Homo sapiens: one gene and its partner. The protein of the gene in region 1 purifies or fractionates together with the protein of each later gene. This does not show direct contact. Each region holds a gene or a part of one and is shown in the gene's direction. Other genes may lie near its edges.

Region 1 (4,129 bases):
AAACCCAGAGAGGGCACAAGATATCCTTAAGCTTATGCAGGGAGATAGAAACACAGGTTCCTCAGGAGCTTAGGAGACCCTGTGTGTTGATTAGCTTGCACCAGGTGCTTTGGAAGGTACAAGGAACTCGGGAATAGTGACTGGGTTGGTTCTGGGGCTGAGTTGTGTGGGTAATCAAACAGTGGACAGCTTCATGCTGGGAAAAGATCCAGCTTGGCCAGGGAAGTGGAAGTGTGCGTAAGAAGGACGATGTGTGTCACTGATGCCCTAGGATATCTGGGGGTAGCAGATACCCTGCAACATCTCTGGCAGATTTATTGGCTGCGGCCTCTGCAAATGTCACCTCTTGTAGGTTTTAGGAAACGTGTGTGTGTTGGTGGGGGGGAGGGGGCTAACAGAACTGCAGCCCACTTTGGCAATGGGACTGCAGAGGAACTGGGACATTTCAGGGAGCTCCCTGGCCCTAGAGGGAGTGAAAGGACAGGATGGACAAGGGGTGAGGACAAGAAAAATTGAGAGCCACGTGGGCTTTGGTTGGTCTCTCCAATGGGATGAGTAGGGGAGAAAGGCATATACTATTTCATCCCTCCCTCTTCTTCCTCTATGTACCAATGGGGTCGGGTAGCATTTAGCTAATCTCCCAAGTCCGGCAGGGGGAGGGTCTTTTAGGAGAGCACTGCTGCAGCCGGCAGTGGAGAGCCTGGGCAGGGAGACAGGGAGAAAACTCCGGCAGCAGGGTGGTCTCTAGGGCTGACCTCGGAGCCTGGGGACAGGGGAGCCTATGCCGCACTGAAGGCGGGACGCTGTAAGCGAGGAGCAGCTGGGCCTGGGCGGACTCCTCGGCCAATCAGCCTCGGTCAGCAGCACCCTCAGGCGCAGGGCACTGTTTGGGCATTGCCTAGAGATCCGACACCCCGCCCAGATCAGCGCAGGGAGGCGAAAGCGACAGCCGGGCGCGGGAGGAGACCAGGGCAGCTGTCCCCTCCGCGAGGGTGGCCCTCGAGGCAATGCGGGTGGGGGCTGGTGAGGAGGCGGAAGGGCCGAGGCTGAGTGGGAGGGGCCGGGGCGCCAGGGCTGGAGCGCGCGGCTCGGGGGTGGAGGCTGCAGAGCCAGCGAGCGAGCGAGGGGCGGGGGCGCCCGGGCCGGCGCGCAGGAGGGGCGGGGGCGGCGGGGAGGGGGGCTCGGGCTGCGTGTGCCGGAGCCGGCGGGGGCGGCGGTGCGTGCGCATGACGCGGGGGGAGGGCCTGGGCCGCGCGCTCCCGGTCCCGTTGTTGTTGCCGCTGGAGGCTGCTCCGAGGCAGCGGGATCACGGCGCTGGGAAGCGCTCGGCAGCGGCGGCCACAGCGTGCGCGGCGGCGCCTCCTGGCCTCGGCCTCCGGCCCCCGGCCCCCGGCTCCATGCGCTAGCCCCGCGCCGCCAGCCCAGTAGTCCCGGCCCCGCCAGCCCCGCGCTCCCGCTCGCCGCTGCCGCCGCCGCCGCCGCCGCCGCCTCCGCCGCGCCGCCCCGGGCCCGCCTCGGGCCCCACGGCTCCGAAGCCATGAACTTCCAGGCGGGCGGGGGGCAGAGCCCGCAGCAGCAGCAGAGCCTGGCGGCTCCGGGGGGCGGCGGCGCTGCCGCGCAGCAGCTCGTCTGCGGCGGGCAGTTCGGCGGCGCGGGGCCCGGGGCCGGGGGCGGCGGCGGCCCCTCGCAGCAGCTGGCCGGCGGGCCCCCCCAGCAGTTCGCGCTCTCCAACTCCGCGGCCATCCGGGCCGAGATCCAGCGCTTCGAGTCCGTGCATCCCAATATCTACGCCATCTACGACCTGATCGAGCGCATCGAGGATTTGGCGCTGCAGAACCAGATCCGGGAGCACGTCATCTCCATCGAGGGTGAGCGGAGCCGGGGGCTGCGGGAGCCGGGGCGCAGTGGCCTCTCCGGCGCCGGCCGAGGGCTCCACAGGCCGTGCCTGGCCATGCTCTCCCTGTCGGGGGTCCTTGCGCGCTTGAGGACCAGGCCACGAGGTTTGCCGATCTGTGTTGCAGAACCGGCGGGCAGCTTCGCCATATCTCGTTCGGGGACACTTTGGGGTTGGGGGTTTTCTGCTGACTGTGTTCCAGGGCGCGAAGGTGGTGTCGCTTGGGGGGGCCGGGACCAGATCTGTCCAGGCCTGGCCGGGGAAGGTGGGCGCGGCAGAGGGCTTCAGCTGCGGGGAGGTGGGGTCGTGACCGGGGAGGCTTCTTAGCCGCTGCCCGGGCCCTGCTCCGCAGTGGGGCGGGGGATCGGAGCCTCGCGTTAGTGGATGGCAGCCTTCCCGGGCCCAGCGCCCGCAGGCCCGGAGGGTGGCGCTCGCCGCGGCGCCCTCTCCCGACGCACACCCCCTACGCCGCGGCGGCCAAGCGGGAGCGGGCCGGGCCTGGCGCTGGGCTGAGGCTCAGCGACCGCGTGGGAGGCGCCGGCAGGTCCATCCGCGCTTTGGCCGGGTCATGAGCCTGACGGGGATCCGCGGCTCCTCGGTCTGGAGGCAGCTGCTGGGCAGCCGGGTGCTGACCGACCGCCAGGGACACCGCACCCGGAGTCGGGGACCGGAAACCCCCGGCCACTGCGCTGCCTAGCGCTTTTTTCTCTGGGCCCTTAGGCCCTGGACTTTCGACCGCTGAGGGCACAGGAAGTGGTGGCACGCTGCTGGCAGATGCCTCGCAAGCCCTGGTGTGGTGGGTGCTGGAGGCACCCGCAGGCACCCCGGTGGCATGGTGACCTTCGAGCGGGCACGGACAGATGGGCCTCACCCTGGGCCATCTGCTTCCTCCCCCAGCTCTGTTTGAAAGGGGACGCCCACCGGCAGGTGGTGGGTTTGGCCTCAGTGGAAATGCAGTGAGAGCCAAGGCCTTTTGCGATAACATGGAGTTATGGGCAGGGGCCTGTCCCTGACTTGGGCCTTAAGGTTAGGGCCCCACTCCCAGCTTCATCTGCTTGCCTGAGGTTCTGGGGGATAGTGCACCTGAACACCTCCCTTTCTGCTTTCAGAGGTCCCCATAGCCGGGGAAGAAGTACTGGGTCTGGGGGGACCCCATGTGGTGCTGGGTTCTATCTTTTGTTGTGACATGCCAGTCTGACTTCCTTCTGCCTTTTCCCAACCCGTTCTTATTTCTTTCCTCTCAAGGCTGAGTTCTCTGTGAACTAATTAGGTGACAGAAAAAACTCATTAACGTGGATCTGAGTAAATGGCCTGAATCACCGCTGTGGCTGGGGACTAGGAGATGGCATTTGTGCGAGCCCTGGGCCCCAAAGACAGGAGATGACCAATTTTTCCTCTTAGATCTGAAGAGGGTGGAGGCGGGAGAGACATCGTTGCTGCAGCTTCACTGTCCTTGGAGGAAGTAAAGACATTCCTGATTTGCTCCAAGCTTACCTTCCCCCAGCTCCTTCTGGAGGGCGACAAGCCTCGTGGGCCGGCCACAGGAGGGTGGGGGCACATCTGCTTCCGAGCTTTTCCCAGAGCAGGGAGAGGTTTCCGGGCTCCCCTGGCTCCAGCTTGATGAGCAGCGACCCCTCCTCCCCAGCTCAGGGGAGCCTCTGGTTGAGCATCTTTTGTGATGTGAAGGCTGATTCCTGGGGCGCCCTTGAGTTTTTTTTGCCTGATCTTAAATTTAACACAACAGGCAGAATTTCCCCTCCTAGAGCCCTCCCCTGACCGACTTCTCCATTGCGGTTTGGAAATACCCCATGGTTCCGTCTACTAGGCCTGGAAGCTCGGCCTCACCCTCGTGAAATCCCGGGAGCCGGTGTCTCACTGTCACCAGACCGACCCAGCCGCGGCTCACACATCCGTTCTCAGCCCTGCTGTTCCCACTCCTGGGCCCTGCTGCCCTGCTGCCCTGCTGTCCCTCCCTCCCCCCTGCCCAGCCTCTCCTGGCACCGTCATCTTTATCCACCTCACCCGTCTTGCGTTCCCACTTTTCTGCTGTAGGCAGTCTTCAAAAGAAAAAAAAAACCACTCCTTCTCCAGTTTCTGCCCTATATCCTTCCTGCGATAGAACTCCTCTCCATCTGCCAAACCATATTGCTTCTGTCCTGCGAAGCGGTGTCCCCACCTTCTTTCTGCGAGGAGGGAGAGGCGCAGACTCCCTGGGCGTTTCCGAGCACAGTCTGA
Region 2 (3,561 bases), on another chromosome or scaffold:
AGTATTTCATGTAGGACTTTATAATTGCATGTATACAAAACTTTTTAATGAATCCATTTAGTAACATTATTCCCTTCTGATAATTAGCAAACAATAGGATAAGGAAGTAGCTGTGTATCTACAAACACATGAGTAATTAGTGGTACAAACAAAATTATAATCCAACCCTTCTTTATTTATTTGCACTTGATCTATTAAAATCTTTGCTATCCACTCAAATTTTGTGCTTTTATAGGTGGATAATAGAACATGGCAAGTTGAGATTCCCAGTTTTATTTCCGGCTTTGCAATATTTTCACTGGGGTTTGGGCTTATAATTTCCATTCTCCAAAACTTCACTTCTTCTCTTGTTAAAACAGAATGGTAATTTCTGCCCCTTCCTTTCCTCCTTTGCCAGGGTGATGGTTGTGGTTAGAAGCACACTGGGCTCCTCAGAGAAAGATGCTTTGGGAGCATTAGAACAATTCAGCATCTCCTTCTGAGATGCATTGAGAGTCATGCAAAGAGGCCAGCAGGCCACGGGTAGCTCTGCCAATGCATGGGGCATCTTGCAGCCAAAGTGGGTACAAACAGGTGGGCACAAACAAGACACAAGATTTATTGGGTTTCCCAAGGGCCCTGTGGGAATCCAGTCTAGAGCCAAAGTCTAGAGTCCCTCTGCGCCATACTTCTTTGCTCTGGGTCTAGGCCAGTTAGGAGATTTGAAAGATCTAGTGGAGCCAAGAATGAATTAGCTTCCAATTCTCTGGGGAAGAATAGGTTGGGTCCTTTTGCAATAGGCTTTGGCTTTCTGGACTTCTCTTTCATTGCACTTATCATATTTTGTTGTAAGTGATAATTTAATGTCCTTTTTCTCCATTAGACTCTAAACTCTGAGAGGTCAACCTGTAGCACAGTATCTGGTACATAGTAGATGTTCACTGAAGATTTACTGAATGGATGGGTGAAAGAATGAATGAATGAATGAGGCTTCATCTTCGCCATATATACCATCACAGTATCCCAGAGCAGCCATCTTCATGATCCCTTGGCCTAAGAGTTTTAAGTTCCACTTTGCTTCCCAAAACCCTTTGCACCTTCAGATCTACCAGGATCAAGTCAGTCTTTTAAAAAAATACCAGGTAGTCTTCTGGGAGTGAGGGCCTTGCATCCTCCTGTGTGTTGACATGAGGAGTTATTCAGGAGATCCACTTGCCCATCCTGTGCAGCAGTGAAGCTGGAGGAAACCTTGGTGGCACTCCCTGGGGCCAGTATTTGTTAATCCCTATTTTATATTCCCTGCTCTGATTTCTTCCAGGCCCAGATAATAAGAGGATGGCCAGGAATGTCTTGAAATATGAAAGGCTCTTGGCAGAGAGCCCCAACCACGTGGTAGCTGAGGCTGTCATCCAGAGGCCCAATATACCCCACCTGCAGACCAGAGACACCTACGAGGGGCTATGTCAGACCCTGGGTTCCCAGGTAGGATTCCTCAGGGAAAGAGAAAGGGGGAGAGGCCTGGCTAGAGTTTGAGAAGCTAGAATTGGGATAACATGAGGGGATAGAGCTGATGCATTAAAAACAATAAAGCTCACTTGGGCAGCATCAGAGTGACCACATTCTGTATCTCTTGCATTCCAATTTTTTTATGCCATAGTTCCCCTAAGTTGAGTTTTGCTCCTAGACCCTTCTTCTCTTATGCTCATCCTATTCTTTCCTTCCAGCCCACTCTCTACCAGATCCCTAGCCTCTACTGTTCCTATGAGACCAATTCCAACGCCTACCTGCTGCTCCAGCCCATCCGGAAGGAGGTCATCCACCTGGAGCCCTACATTGCTCTCTACCATGACTTCGTCAGTGACTCAGAGGCTCAGAAAATTAGAGAACTTGCAGAACCATGGGTGAGTGTCCTGAGAACCCGCCAAGAATTTCTCTTTCATCTTCACATGCCTGGAGTTCAGGAGTGTAAGAATAGGCAACCTGAACAACTAGACACCTCAAAGAGCCAAGGAGTTCAGAATGCCAACCATTCCATAAAACTAGTCCATGGTGGAAAAAAATCACAATAGTGCTTGCCTCTAGAGGGAAAGGATTAACTGGATGATGTACAAGAGGATTCTCTGGGGTATTGAAAATGTGCTCTCAATATCTTGTTAGGGACGTGGTACATGTGGCTGTATGCATTTGTCAAAACTCACCAAATGGTCCACTTGAGACCTGTGTATATCATTGTATGTAAGTTTAACCTAAAAAAAGACAAATAAAAAAGAACACTTCAAAAGTGTCAACCATTCTATGTAATTGGTAGAGGTGGGGAAAAGGGTGAAATGACAGCGGCAAGGAGTAAAATCCTAGCACAAATTTACAGAGTTAGAGTAGAAAGCTAAACTTCATTATTTTGTTAAAAAGGAAACCGAGGCCCAGAGAGGGGAAGGGACTTGTTAAGCTCATACATGTAGCTAGAGCCACAGCTAGAACTTAGAGGTACAGTAGTCCCCCTTATTTGCAATTTTACTTTCTGTGGTTTCAGTTATTCTCAGTGTAGTACAATAAGATATTTTGAGAGAGAGAGGTCATTTTCCCATAATTTTATTACAGTATATTATTATTATTATATTTTATTGTTAATCTCTGTGCCTCATTTATGAATTATAAATTATAACATATAATTATAAATTAAACTTTGTAATTCAGTTACAATCATTATTATAATTTCGTTATAAAAAGAACCAAAGGAGGCCAGAATGATCAGGGCTAGCGGGCCCAACGAAGGTGCAGGGCTTCAACTGAGTCTCCAAAGATGGGCAGAATGTGGCGAGAAGTGTTGAGTGAGTGTGCTTTGGGAAAGGGACAGTGACTAGGAAGCAGATATTCAACACAAGCCACTGAGGCATCTGTCTTCAGTTTCCATGGGGGAGCCACTACCATGTGAGCCCAGGGCTGATTCCTGGGAGAGCCACAAACCAGACAGGCATCAGCAGCCCCAGAGAGATGCTTCTAGGGGAAGGAAGTGTGCCAAGGTCTGTGCATGCCAAATGGACGACACGGCCATGAATGACTAAATAGACATCTCTGGGTGGGTCACTTCTCCCATTACCATGGCAACAGGGCTGTTTTAAGGAAAAATTTAGTTATAATGTAATTATGATTATAATTAAATTACAATCATGATTAAATTAAATTACAATCATGATTAGATTAAATTTTGATTGAAGCCATCCCACTGTCTTCACTTGGAGACCCAGCCTGACAGAGCAGCCTCTGTATGGGACATTGCCAGTCTCATGGAAGAGGAAAAAGACAAATGGCAAACATGAGCTGGTTCATAAAGCTTCTGCATGGAAGTGCCAGATGTTACTTCCACCCATGTTTCACTGGTCAGAGCAAAGCATGTGGGCACTACTGCAGTTAACAGCAAGGTTCTAATTCTTCCACAGGGAAAGCACTGCAAGTCACCAAGCCAAGCTGGATGTCAATGGGAAGAGGACATTTAATCCTCCCCCTAGGAAGTGTGCTAAATATTAACAAGAAAAAATGCACCTCTATAAGCATGTTGCCTCTTTAAAGATATTGTCTCAGAAT

Evidence for each region. Proteins that work in one complex are often made in the same cells at the same time.
Region 2: the proteins of AGAP3 (region 1) and P4HA3 purify together in Homo sapiens (co-immunoprecipitation; one large-scale study listed by IntAct). This does not show direct contact.

What each region holds. Positions count from the first base shown.
Region 1 is NC_000007.14:151,085,205-151,089,333, forward strand, and holds the start of AGAP3 (arf-GAP with GTPase, ANK repeat and PH domain-containing protein 3), read left to right. Parts: upstream 1-1,270; 5' UTR 1,271-1,537; coding exon 1,538-1,868; intron 1,869-3,798; exon of another isoform or gene 3,799-4,129. UniProt on the Homo sapiens protein: GTPase-activating protein for the ADP ribosylation factor family. GTPase which may be involved in the degradation of expanded polyglutamine proteins through the ubiquitin-proteasome pathway.
Region 2 is NC_000011.10:74,284,128-74,287,688, reverse strand, and holds part of P4HA3 (prolyl 4-hydroxylase subunit alpha-3 isoform 1 precursor), read left to right. Parts: intron 1-1,297; coding exon 1,298-1,461; intron 1,462-1,703; coding exon 1,704-1,880; intron 1,881-3,561. UniProt on the Homo sapiens protein: Catalyzes the post-translational formation of 4-hydroxyproline in -Xaa-Pro-Gly- sequences in collagens and other proteins.